2 separate regions of the Homo sapiens genome follow, and region 1 is linked to region 2. Evidence: fine-mapped expression QTL. A gene starts in region 2. The other region holds a variant in brackets. All regions are shown on one strand. Distances are from middle to middle.

The links. PIP is the estimated chance that this variant, and not a neighbour inherited with it, causes the effect.
Region 1: its variant is the best candidate, but not a certain one, in a credible set for the expression of MLH3 in whole blood (INTERVAL, PIP 0.69).

What each region holds. Positions count from the first base shown.
Region 1 is chr14:75,012,387-75,017,733 of GRCh38, reverse strand. It overlaps MLH3 (mutL homolog 3), which reads left to right. Exons shown (of 13, transcript NM_001040108.2): 13 at 533-3,959. The coding sequence ends at 652. Among named protein-coding and RNA genes, the nearest start is that of EIF2B2, 12 kb to the right of the region's middle. The variant T/C (reference allele first, on the strand shown) is at 2,529.
Region 2 is chr14:75,048,604-75,053,981 of GRCh38, reverse strand. It overlaps MLH3 (mutL homolog 3), which reads left to right and starts at 2,515. Exons shown (of 13, transcript NM_001040108.2): 1 at 2,515-2,602; 2 at 4,264-5,378. The coding sequence starts at 4,327. ACYP1 (acylphosphatase 1) reads left to right here. Exons shown (of 3, transcript NM_001107.5): 3 at 323-739. The coding sequence ends at 538. RefSeq lists a silencer at 2,713-2,902.

The DNA of each region.
Region 1 (5,347 bases), 36 kb after region 2:
AAAGAAAAATATGAAGAAAGTTTTTCTCCATTGCTGAGAGCTGGGAATCTAGACTTAAAGTTCTGAGTCCCCTTGGATCCTTAAAACAATCTGTAATCTCTATTGAATCCAGAAGTTAGAAATCTAAACAGATTATAACAGCCAGACTTTGGAAATATTTGTATGCTACCTACATTTTCAATTTTTTTTTTTTGAGACGGAGTCTCACTCTGTCGCCCAGGCTGGAGTGCAGTGGCATGATCTTGGCTCACCACAACCTCCGCCTCCCAGGTTCAATCAATTCTCCTGCCTCAGCCTCCTGAGTAGCTGGGATTATAGGCATGCGCCACCACACCCGGCTAATTTTTTTTTGTATTTTTAGTAGAGACAGGGTTTCACCATATTGGCCAGGCTGGTCTCAAACTCCTGACCTTGTGATCCGCCTGCCTTGGCCTCCCAGAGTGCTGGGATTACAGGTGTGAGTCACCTCGCCCAGCCTGTATGCTACCTACCTTTTCATATTGCTAATTGAAGTTATTCTTTCTTCCCATAGATTAAACCCAACCTCACTAAACTTCGCAAAATGGCCCAGGCCTGGCGTCTCTTTGGAAAAGCAGAGTGTGATACAAGGCAGAGCCTGCAGCAATCCATGCCTCCCTGTGAGCCACCATGAGAACAGAATCACTGGTCTAAAAGGAACAAAGGGATGTTCACTGTATGCCTCTGAGCAGAGAGCAGCAGCAGCAGGTACCAGCACGGCCCTGACTGAATCAGCCCAGTGTCCCTGAGCAGCTTAGACAGCAGGGCTCTCTGTATCAGTCTTTCTTGAGCAGATGATTCCCCTAGTTGAGTAGCCAGATGAAATTCAAGCCTAAAGACAATTCATTCATTTGCATCCATGGGCACAGAAGGTTGCTATATAGTATCTACCTTTTGCTACTTATTTAATGATAAAATTTAATGACAGTTTGATTGGTTGCTTGGTTTGTTATTTGAAGGGTGTGATTTTTGTTTTTGTACAGTTTTTTTTCAAGCTTCACATTTGCGTGTATCTAATTCAGCTGATGCTCAAGTCCAAGGGGTAGTCTGCCTTCCCAGGCTGCCCCCAGGGTTTCTGCACTGGTCCCCTCTTTTCCCTTCAGTCTTCTTCACTTCCCTATGCTGCTGCTTCATGTGCTACATCTCAGACTTAAAGAGTTTCTCTACTACAGTGAAAACATTCTCTAGGGTCTTTCATCAGGCCTTTAGTTATTTTAGGGATAAAAACTATTGATAAAAAGGACAAGGATAGAACAGAGAAAATTTAAAGTCCTGTTCCGGGTTTTTTGTTATGTTTTCTTTAAAAACTCAGAGACTGATGTTCAATATCCCAAACCAGTAAAATGGTGAAAATACTATGAGCTTGTTTTTTAAAATATGATTTTTTTTGGTACTTTATAAAGTATCTCTTTATGTGAAAGCAATTGTCATATCAAAACACAGCATACATACGTTCAACCTAACCAAATATCTTTACACTTTTTCTTTCAGGAGACAAGGGTTCTTTGGGTCCCTTTCAAACGGTATCTTGGTGTTATTACATTATGCCTATCTATTGCCCTTATAATATCACTTGGGACCAGGACTGATCGTTCTGCAAATGCTTGTTATGCCATTCTCAATCTATTTTTCCCGCACCTTTTCACATGATTTGTGGTTAATAGGACTCAACAGACTAAAATTGCATAGTAGAAAAAAAATGCAAAAAGCCAGCTGGTAATGTTTATTGCAACTGGGGTGCTATACAATTAGTAAGATGATGCAATGAGAATTTCTACTTTTGTATTTCCTGACCAGCCTGCTCAAAGTGGCTTTTATATCAATTGAATGATTTTCCTCATTTTTTAATACAGGAAACCAATTCGTGCTCATGGAAGAAAAGTTCCTTTGCCAGCAGCCTTGAAGTGAATCTTACAGGAGCAATGAAAGTATTGCATTCATTAGCGTCTGCCCCAGAGAAGGTTCAGAGAAAACCTTCACTTGTTTTCAAGGGGATCCTTGTAGATTTACGTAATTGGAATCCTGAAGAACAGGCCCTACTGTCTAAAAAATGGCTTTTATTCTTCTAAATACATATAAACGGATGTTTTATAGATGGGAAGACATGACCTTAGAAAGGAGAGAGTTTTCAGAGGATTTGCCAGGCTGTCAGGGGCTCTGCCTCCAGGCCCAGTGTGGCAGTGTGGCCTCAGGGCCTCCGCCTCCCTGCTTGAGGGCTGCATGGAGGCCAACTGTCCTGGGAGTTGTAAAAATCTTTTAAGGCCAGACCAATTTGAGGGATTTTAAAAAGTGTCTCAGTGCCTCTTATGATTTCAGAAGGTTTTGCTATATGTAATCCCAACTACTGTTTTCTTGAGAGTAGCAGAGGATTAGAAAAAGTCCTCCATAAATTATGTAACCGGCCTTCCTGACTAGCCTGACTCAAGCAATGTAAGAGATAATTATTCTGTTTTCATAATTTATAAGTGTGGGGGCATGCCTCAGCATAAAAACAACCTATTAGGGAAAAA[T/C]ATCTAATAGATTACCTTTATCGCCTGTTAGGGTTTTATGTTGTTTTTAACTCAGATGCCATAAGAACAAAGATACATGTAATTTATAATAGTAATCATTAATACCTATATTGTGCTTTAAGGTTTACAAAATAATTTTTCTCATACTTTATCTTAGTTTAGTTTCTTGACAGTCCATGAGGTAAGGTGGTAGCTTTATCACCATTTTACAAAGTGGGAAACGAAGGTTCCTCTTAGGAACCTAGTTGTCACCTTTGTATAATAAAACTTCGAAGCTCGGAGCTGTTAACTGGTTTGCTGAAGGCTTAGCTGTAAGAGCCAGAATTCAGACCCAGGTCTGAGTGACTTCAAACTGCACAGTCCTTCCCATTATTACCCATATGCTATCCCTTATATTTTTAATTTATTAGGAATTCATTCATTTATAAACTTGGTGATTCACCTTTATTAGATTCTGGTCGCTGAAGGCTTTAGTAACTTCAGAGTAAAACTTGAGAGATGAGATGTAAAATGCAGCCATTCTTGAGAGTTCCTTTTTCTGTAACATTCATCAACACTTCATTGAGAAGTGAAGGTTCCTATGGCTGTCTCTACCTTCAAGAGGCTTAGCTTTAGTCACTGAGAAAGACAAGGAAACTAATGATAGAATATAGTAGCTTCTTCTGGCGTTAGGTATCACAGAGTCACAGCTAGTTACAGCTAGCCCTTTATTATTGAAAGAAGAGGAGCTAGCAGTCCCACTATCAGAATTAAGACTAGAGATGGTAATAGGAGCTAGTATCAGAAAAGCTTAAGGCAAAGCATAAAGTGTAGGCTAGAATGAAGCTGGAGAATGGGGAGGGGGCTTGGGTAACATCCAGAACCTGGCTGGGGACCTGGAACTACATGAGATGTAAGAATGGAGAGGTTCTAGCAGTCAGAGGTCAGGTACAAATGAACAGCTGGGATCTGCGCATGGCAGACAGTGAAAAAACCCAGGCAAGCAAAATGGTCAGAGCAGAAAGGGGCCCAAGGCCACGTTCTTGAGATGTGGAGGGGGCTGAGGAAGCCACGCCAAGTAAGGACAGATGCAGCTCAGCAGTTCCTAGCGAGCCCTGACAAGCCAGCTCAGCTGAAGCTTCGGGTGGGAGCCAGTCATGGCACAGTGGAGTGAAGGAAGAGCAGTTTCAGGCACCCAAAACCTGACCCCCACGACCTGTTTTCCACCTGAAGAGCCACCCATTCCATCCAAACCCTTGGCAAAAGTCTGCTAACAGAGAGAACCGGCCAGTATGCTGGCCAGTCGCGATCATGCCTGTCTTTACCCTCTAAGCTGAAGCTGCTCATCAACGGTGAGATGGCAAAAAGGTGGGTCCAGAAGAGGGGAAAAGAAGGGAGTCTGTGAAAACAAAATGCTGAAGAATCTGCATCAAATAAACCCTTCCTTCCTTCCTTTTTCCTTCCATCCCTCTCTTCATTCAGCAAATCTTCAGTGAGTTCCTTTCTAAATGTATTGTATCAGAACTTGTGGGGGATATAAAGAAAAAAAAGAGGTTATCACATGGCTTAGGATGTTTCCAACCCTTGGATCATTTTCACCCCAGGCCCATTAGTTACAGAGCACTCAGTCTTACCCAGAAGCATCGGATATAGTCCAGGCAACCGGATCCAAGCGTGTGGGAATCGCAGTGTGCTGCATGTGGGAATCTATCAGGCCAGGATGATTCAAGCAGCAGCCTGCAGAAGTGGGATTTGGCCAGCCTTGCCTGACTCTGGCCTTCCAACTTGCTCTTATCTACTTCCAAAGTAAGGAATGCCCCATGATGGGCCGAGCAGTCCAAAAAAAGTGGCTTGGAGTTAGCTACCGCAATTAGCAGTTTCTCATTATTCAACACTGCATTACCTCTTTTTCATATTAACTGCAGAATTTTATTTTTATGTATTTATTATCCTTCCAAACCCAGTGTTGTAGGAAGAATATTACATATAAATGATAACTTAGGAATCTTGTCAAGTTTTTGTTTCTTCAGCACTAAGTAGCTTATTTTCTAGGCAGGTCTTAATTCTAAATGTAACATGCTTGAAAAAAACACTATTGAAAGGATCCGTCTCTTCAGCATAGTATTTAATATACATATCAGGCAATCACCATCTCAAGCATGATTAGACTCAAGTGCTGCCCTCCATCGTGTGAGGGATGCTGGGAGACTGGAAGCTTAGACTTTAGCTCTTTAAGTTGGTGCAAAAGCAATTGCAGTTTTTACTATTAATAATAATAATTGCCTAGCCATTGTGCAGTACCTTGCAAGAGCTCTTTGGCAAATGAAAGAATAATTCAAAGCAAAGTAGGCCAGATATAAAACACTTCCAAATCACATTTCAAAATTGTTCTTTCATGTCAACTAGGTGCATGTCTGCTAAGGGAGTTTTTGCAAGGACAGGTGGATAGTGTGAGGCCTTTACAATAATCACATCACCATCTGGTACTATCTGTATGGCAGAGCAGTTCTGATGTAGTTGTAGTATTATAGATCATTACAGAGTATGCCAGTCATTCCATGATGGAACTGTGACTGGCAGCCTTCATTAGCCCAAAGACTGATGCAACAGATTGCTTTGAGAAATAGTTTTGAAGCACATCCATGAAACATATGATCCTATGGGTTCCAGCATTGATTTCTTTGAGGTATCATTTTACACTTCAGTTTTTCCTGGTAGAGTATTTTTCAGAGATGTCTCTTCTGAGGCTAAATTAGGAATTTCTGTTCCTTATTCAAGTTCCAAGAATTGTGCCTTTCCTGCCCTCTGCCCAAACTGGAAGATAGAAACCGTGGGAAAAA
Region 2 (5,378 bases):
AAAAACAATCAGCCTTAGGGGATCATTTCAAAAGCATCTGTTTTGGACTTAAGTCTTTGATACTTAACCAAATTGACTACACAGTGAAAAATTCTAGTGCCTGGGTTTTATAGGGTAGAAGAAAGACATGCAGTCAAGTGGCCAATACTTCATGTGAAGATAAGCAATGAGATCCTTCTTGCTGTCTTTCTTTTGACTGTTCTGGGCAATATCAAATTAGTTTCAGTGGCTTGATTCTAGGCCAAGATTCTGGCAACAGATTGTAGTCTTACCTTGTTTTCTTCAATCTCACTGGATCTCTCTCTCTTTTTACCCCCCTTAGGCTGAGGGTAAAAAGCTGGGATTGGTAGGCTGGGTCCAGAACACTGACCGGGGCACAGTGCAAGGACAATTGCAAGGTCCCATCTCCAAGGTGCGTCATATGCAGGAATGGCTTGAAACAAGAGGAAGTCCTAAATCACACATCGACAAAGCAAACTTCAACAATGAAAAAGTCATCTTGAAGTTGGATTACTCAGACTTCCAAATTGTAAAATAATGGCCTGAATTTAAGTTTTCTAAGATAAACTCAGTGGTTTGGTTTTTATTATTAATAGAGATAGAACTATTGTGTGTTAATATTAGCATTAGTCAATAAGTTATTTTAATGTCAGATTTTTGAATGTTATTATATATTACCTGTATGATGGAAGGATTACCACTGTACACAAATCTAATCAATAAAAACGTTAGAACCTTCTGCTTAGAGTACTTTTAAAAAATCTTCAGTGAACTTCCTTTTGGGCGAAATGAGAGGTCTTTATTCAGTAAACATTTGTAGGAAGAGGATTTTGAGGTAATTTAAAGAGGTCTGAAAGAAAAAAAGTCTGAGTCATTTCTTTAAATGGTTTCTATGAAATGTTCTTCAAGAAATTCCATGCCTAATAAGAACAAATACCACAAGTTCAATTTGTTAGCTCTGTTCACCTTATGTTTGGATGAATTACTTCTGCTGTTGTTTCTTTTCTCTGGGTAAGGAATTCACATAAAGTTATGTTATGGGCTGAACTGTGTCCCACCAAATTCATATGTTAAAGTCTCAGTCCCCAGTACCTCAGAAAGTGACTGTATTTGGACATAGGGCCTTTAAAGAGGTGATTAAGATTAAATGAGGCTGTGAGGGTGGGCCCTAATCCAATCTGACTGGTGTTCTTATAAGAGAACATATTGGCTATAGACACGTGTGCAAAAATCAAAGACCCTGTGAAAATGGCCATCTACAAGCCAAGGAGAGAGGCCTCAGGAGAAATCGTTGCTGCCAACACCTTGATCTCAGACTTCCAGTCTCTAGAACTGAGAGGAAATAGACTTCTGCTGCTTAAGCTACTCAGTCTGAGGTATTTTGTTATGGCAGCCCTAGGTATAGTAATAATCATAAACAGTTATCAGGATTTTGCTTAATCAGCCCTAGAAGACTGGTTGGTTGGGTTTGGTTAGTCACTAAACTAGCATATATCAAATGCTTACCAGGTCTGACAAATTCGTTATAAATTCCACTTTAAATTCTCAATGAAAATGAGATAGAAAGCAAAAACTAAGGACTGGTTAACAATTCCAAAACACTTTATTCTCACAGCATTCTCAGAGTTCTGCTCTCCTTTAGTTATTTTTATAACTAAAAGCTGTGGTGGCACTGGGGAGATTCAAGTCAGTGAAGAGAGTCTTGGTGTTGTCATCTGTAAATTAAGAGTTGAGCAAAGGCCGGGTGCGGTGGCTCACGCCTGTAATCCCAACACTTTGGGAGGCCGAGGCGGGCAGATCACCTGAGGTCCGGAGTTCGAGACCAGCCTGACCAACATGGAGAAACCCCCGTCTCTACTAAAAATACAAAATTAGCCGAGTGTGGTGGCGCATGCCTGTAATCCTAGCTACTCGGGAGGCTGAGGCAGGAGAATCACTTGAACCCTGGAGGCGGAGGTTGCAGTAAGCTGAGATCGCACCACTGAATTCCAGCCTGGGCAACAAGAGCTAAACTCCGTCTCAAAAAAAAAAAAAAAAAAAAAAAGAGTTGAGTTAGACAGTTTCTCAGCCTTTTCCAGCTCCAAATGCCATAATTCTAAGATGGCAGGCTCTGGAATTATTCATTCATTCGGTGCCTACCATAGGCCAGGCACTGTTCTTGGTAACTGGGATACAGCAGTAAACAAAATATATAAACTCCTTACCTTCACATAGCTTACATTCTAGGGAGAGAAGACAATAAGTAAACACATAAAATATATATTGAATTAAACGGTAGTTAAGAGCAAAGGTGAAAATGAGAAAAAAAAGGAAAGGGAAAACACGGGAAAAAAAAATAAAAACAAAAGTAAAAGCTACGACATAGTCTTTAACACCATGCCAAAAGGGAATAAGGATTGAGACTGTAGGTACCGGTTCACTGAACCCTGGGATGCGGATCCTTGGCTGGAACAACTGGTGCGCATGCGCACTGGTGTCTCGCGGCCTGGCGCGCCCCCTCCGAAGCGCATGCTCGTGGGCACGCACGAGCCTCAAGATCCAAGGTGCGCGCGTCGGCGTCCGAGGCGGTTGGTGTCGGAGAATTTGTTAAGCGGGACTCCAGGTGACTCTGGGGGAAGCACGCGACGAAAAGATGATGCCGGGGTCTCTTCTAACACCAGAAGGGCCCTGATGATGGCTGCGCGCAGCTTTCGGAGCCGGATGCGCGAGGGCCCCGGAGGCCCGGCGGCCTGGCGGCCGGGCGGGCCCAGTTTGGGGACAAGGACGGGGCTGGCCAGGGAGGGGCTGGGCCTGGCGGGAAGGCAGCGCTGCCCCGGACTCGGCCCGCGCGGCCCTCCCAGGCCCCCGTGCCCTGGATCCAGGCCCGTGCGTCCCGTCAGTCCCAGGCGCTGGGAGGCGTCATCAGGAAATCATTGGGTTTACATTAATCGGAATACTTGTTAAACGTTTACCCGTCAGTTGCTGCCGGCTGCTTAGTGCATTAGCTTAGAAAGCAGCAGAAATTCTGCAGTTAAGAGCCCTGATTTGTCCCGAGTTTGGAAAACCGGCCCCACCGCCTGCAGGGGCCCACCCACGTGGCTCTCACTGATGGAGAAGAAGGGGAGACCTTTAATGGCACTGGAATCTTAGGGTTTGGTTTTTTTTGTTTTGTTTTTTGTTTTTGTGTTTTCACTTGCAGGAAAACTTAAAATCAAGTTCAGGCAGCCCCATGCCATCATTATTATTACCAAGGTAGTTTATGCCCATCTGTAAAGACCAAAAGAATATTAATAATGACCTTCTGGCCGGGCGCGGTGGTTCACACCTGTAATCCCAGCACTTTGGGAGGCCAAGGCGGGAGGATCACTTGAGTTCAGGAGTTCGAGACCAGGCTGGTTAACATGGTGAAACCCCATCTCTACATAAGAGACAAAAATTAGCCAGGCATGGTGGCGAGCGCCTGTAATCCCAGCTACTCGGGAGGCTAAGGCTGGAGGATTGCTTGAGCCCGGGAGGTGCAGGCTGCAGTGAGCCGAGATTGTGTCATTGCACTCCAGCCTGGGTGACAGAGTGAGACTGTTTCAAAAAAGAATAATAACGACTTTCTAAAAACATCAGAGTAATACATGAACAGGATTTAACAATCAAATGGCAAAGAAAGGTTTATATGAAAAGGAATTTTCCTGCTTTATCTTTTCCCATTCCCAGCCTCTTTCCCTGAGGTGACTATACTTAACCATAATAATAATAACCTCTTAATGCCCCCAATCTCTCTTTGATACAATTTGATTCTTAAAATTTCTTCCTATTGCTTCACCTTATTACAATGTCTTAGCAATTCATTATAAGTATTTTTCTAAAAGTCATGGTTATTGTGTAATGTATAAATGTTATGAAACTAGCTTGGACATTTTTGTCATGAATAATTTCTAGCTAATGTTCCTTAGCTGTATTTAATTTAGGCATCTGTTTTTGGTGAAGTGGTTAGAATTTCGAATACTGTGTTTACTGGTCAACTTCAAGTGTAATTATGATTTCACTTTAGGACATGTGGGATTTAGAAAGGAGCATTGAAAATTATGAAATTATGAATTTTTTTTGGATGTTAATCCATTGCACCAAGCATGAGCTGTGCCTAGAGATCAGCGGTATAACTTTGTTTTGCTTTGTTTCACAATTTGGTTTAATAAGAGTGATTTCATTTACCTCAAGTGCTATTTCTTCATAATGCTGTGTAATGCTAAAGCTTTGATTATGTGCGTGTGTGGTTTTTTTCTCCAATAGGCAATTATTTCCAGTCAGAGAAGGAAACCAGTGCCTGGCATTCTCACCATCTTTCTACCTACCATGATCAAGTGCTTGTCAGTTGAAGTACAAGCCAAATTGCGTTCTGGTTTGGCCATAAGCTCCTTGGGCCAATGTGTTGAGGAACTTGCCCTCAACAGTATTGATGCTGAAGCAAAATGTGTGGCTGTCAGGGTGAATATGGAAACCTTCCAAGTTCAAGTGATAGACAATGGATTTGGGATGGGGAGTGATGATGTAGAGAAAGTGGGAAATCGTTATTTCACCAGTAAATGCCACTCGGTACAGGACTTGGAGAATCCAAGGTTTTATGGTTTCCGAGGAGAGGCCTTGGCAAATATTGCTGACATGGCCAGTGCTGTGGAAATTTCGTCCAAGAAAAACAGGACAATGAAAACTTTTGTGAAACTGTTTCAGAGTGGAAAAGCCCTGAAAGCTTGTGAAGCTGATGTGACTAGAGCAAGCGCTGGGACTACTGTAACAGTGTATAACCTATTTTACCAGCTTCCTGTAAGGAGGAAATGCATGGACCCTAGACTGGAGTTTGAGAAGGTTAGGCAGAGAATAGAAGCTCTCTCACTCATGCACCCTTCCATTTCTTTCTCTTTGAGAAATGATGTTTCTGGTTCCATGGTTCTTCAGCTCCCTAAAACCAAAGACGTATGTTCCCGATTTTGTCAAATTTATGGATTGGGAAAGTCCCAAAAGCTAAGAGAAATAAGTTTTAAATATAAAGAGTTTGAGCTTAGTGGCTATATCAGCTCTGAAGCACATTACAACAAGAATATGCAGTTTTTGTTTGTGAACAAAAGACTAGTTTTAAGGACAAAGCTACATAAACTCATTGACTTTTTATTAAGGAAAGAAAGTATTATATGCAAGCCAAAGAATGGTCCCACCAGTAGGCAAATGAATTCAAGTCTTCGGCACCGGTCTACCCCAGAACTCTATGGCATATATGTAATTAATGTGCAGTGCCAATTCTGTGAGTATGATGTGTGCATGGAGCCAGCCAAAACTCTGATTGAATTTCAGAACTGGGACACTCTCTTGTTTTGCATTCAGGAAGGAGTGAAAATGTTTTTAAAGCAAGA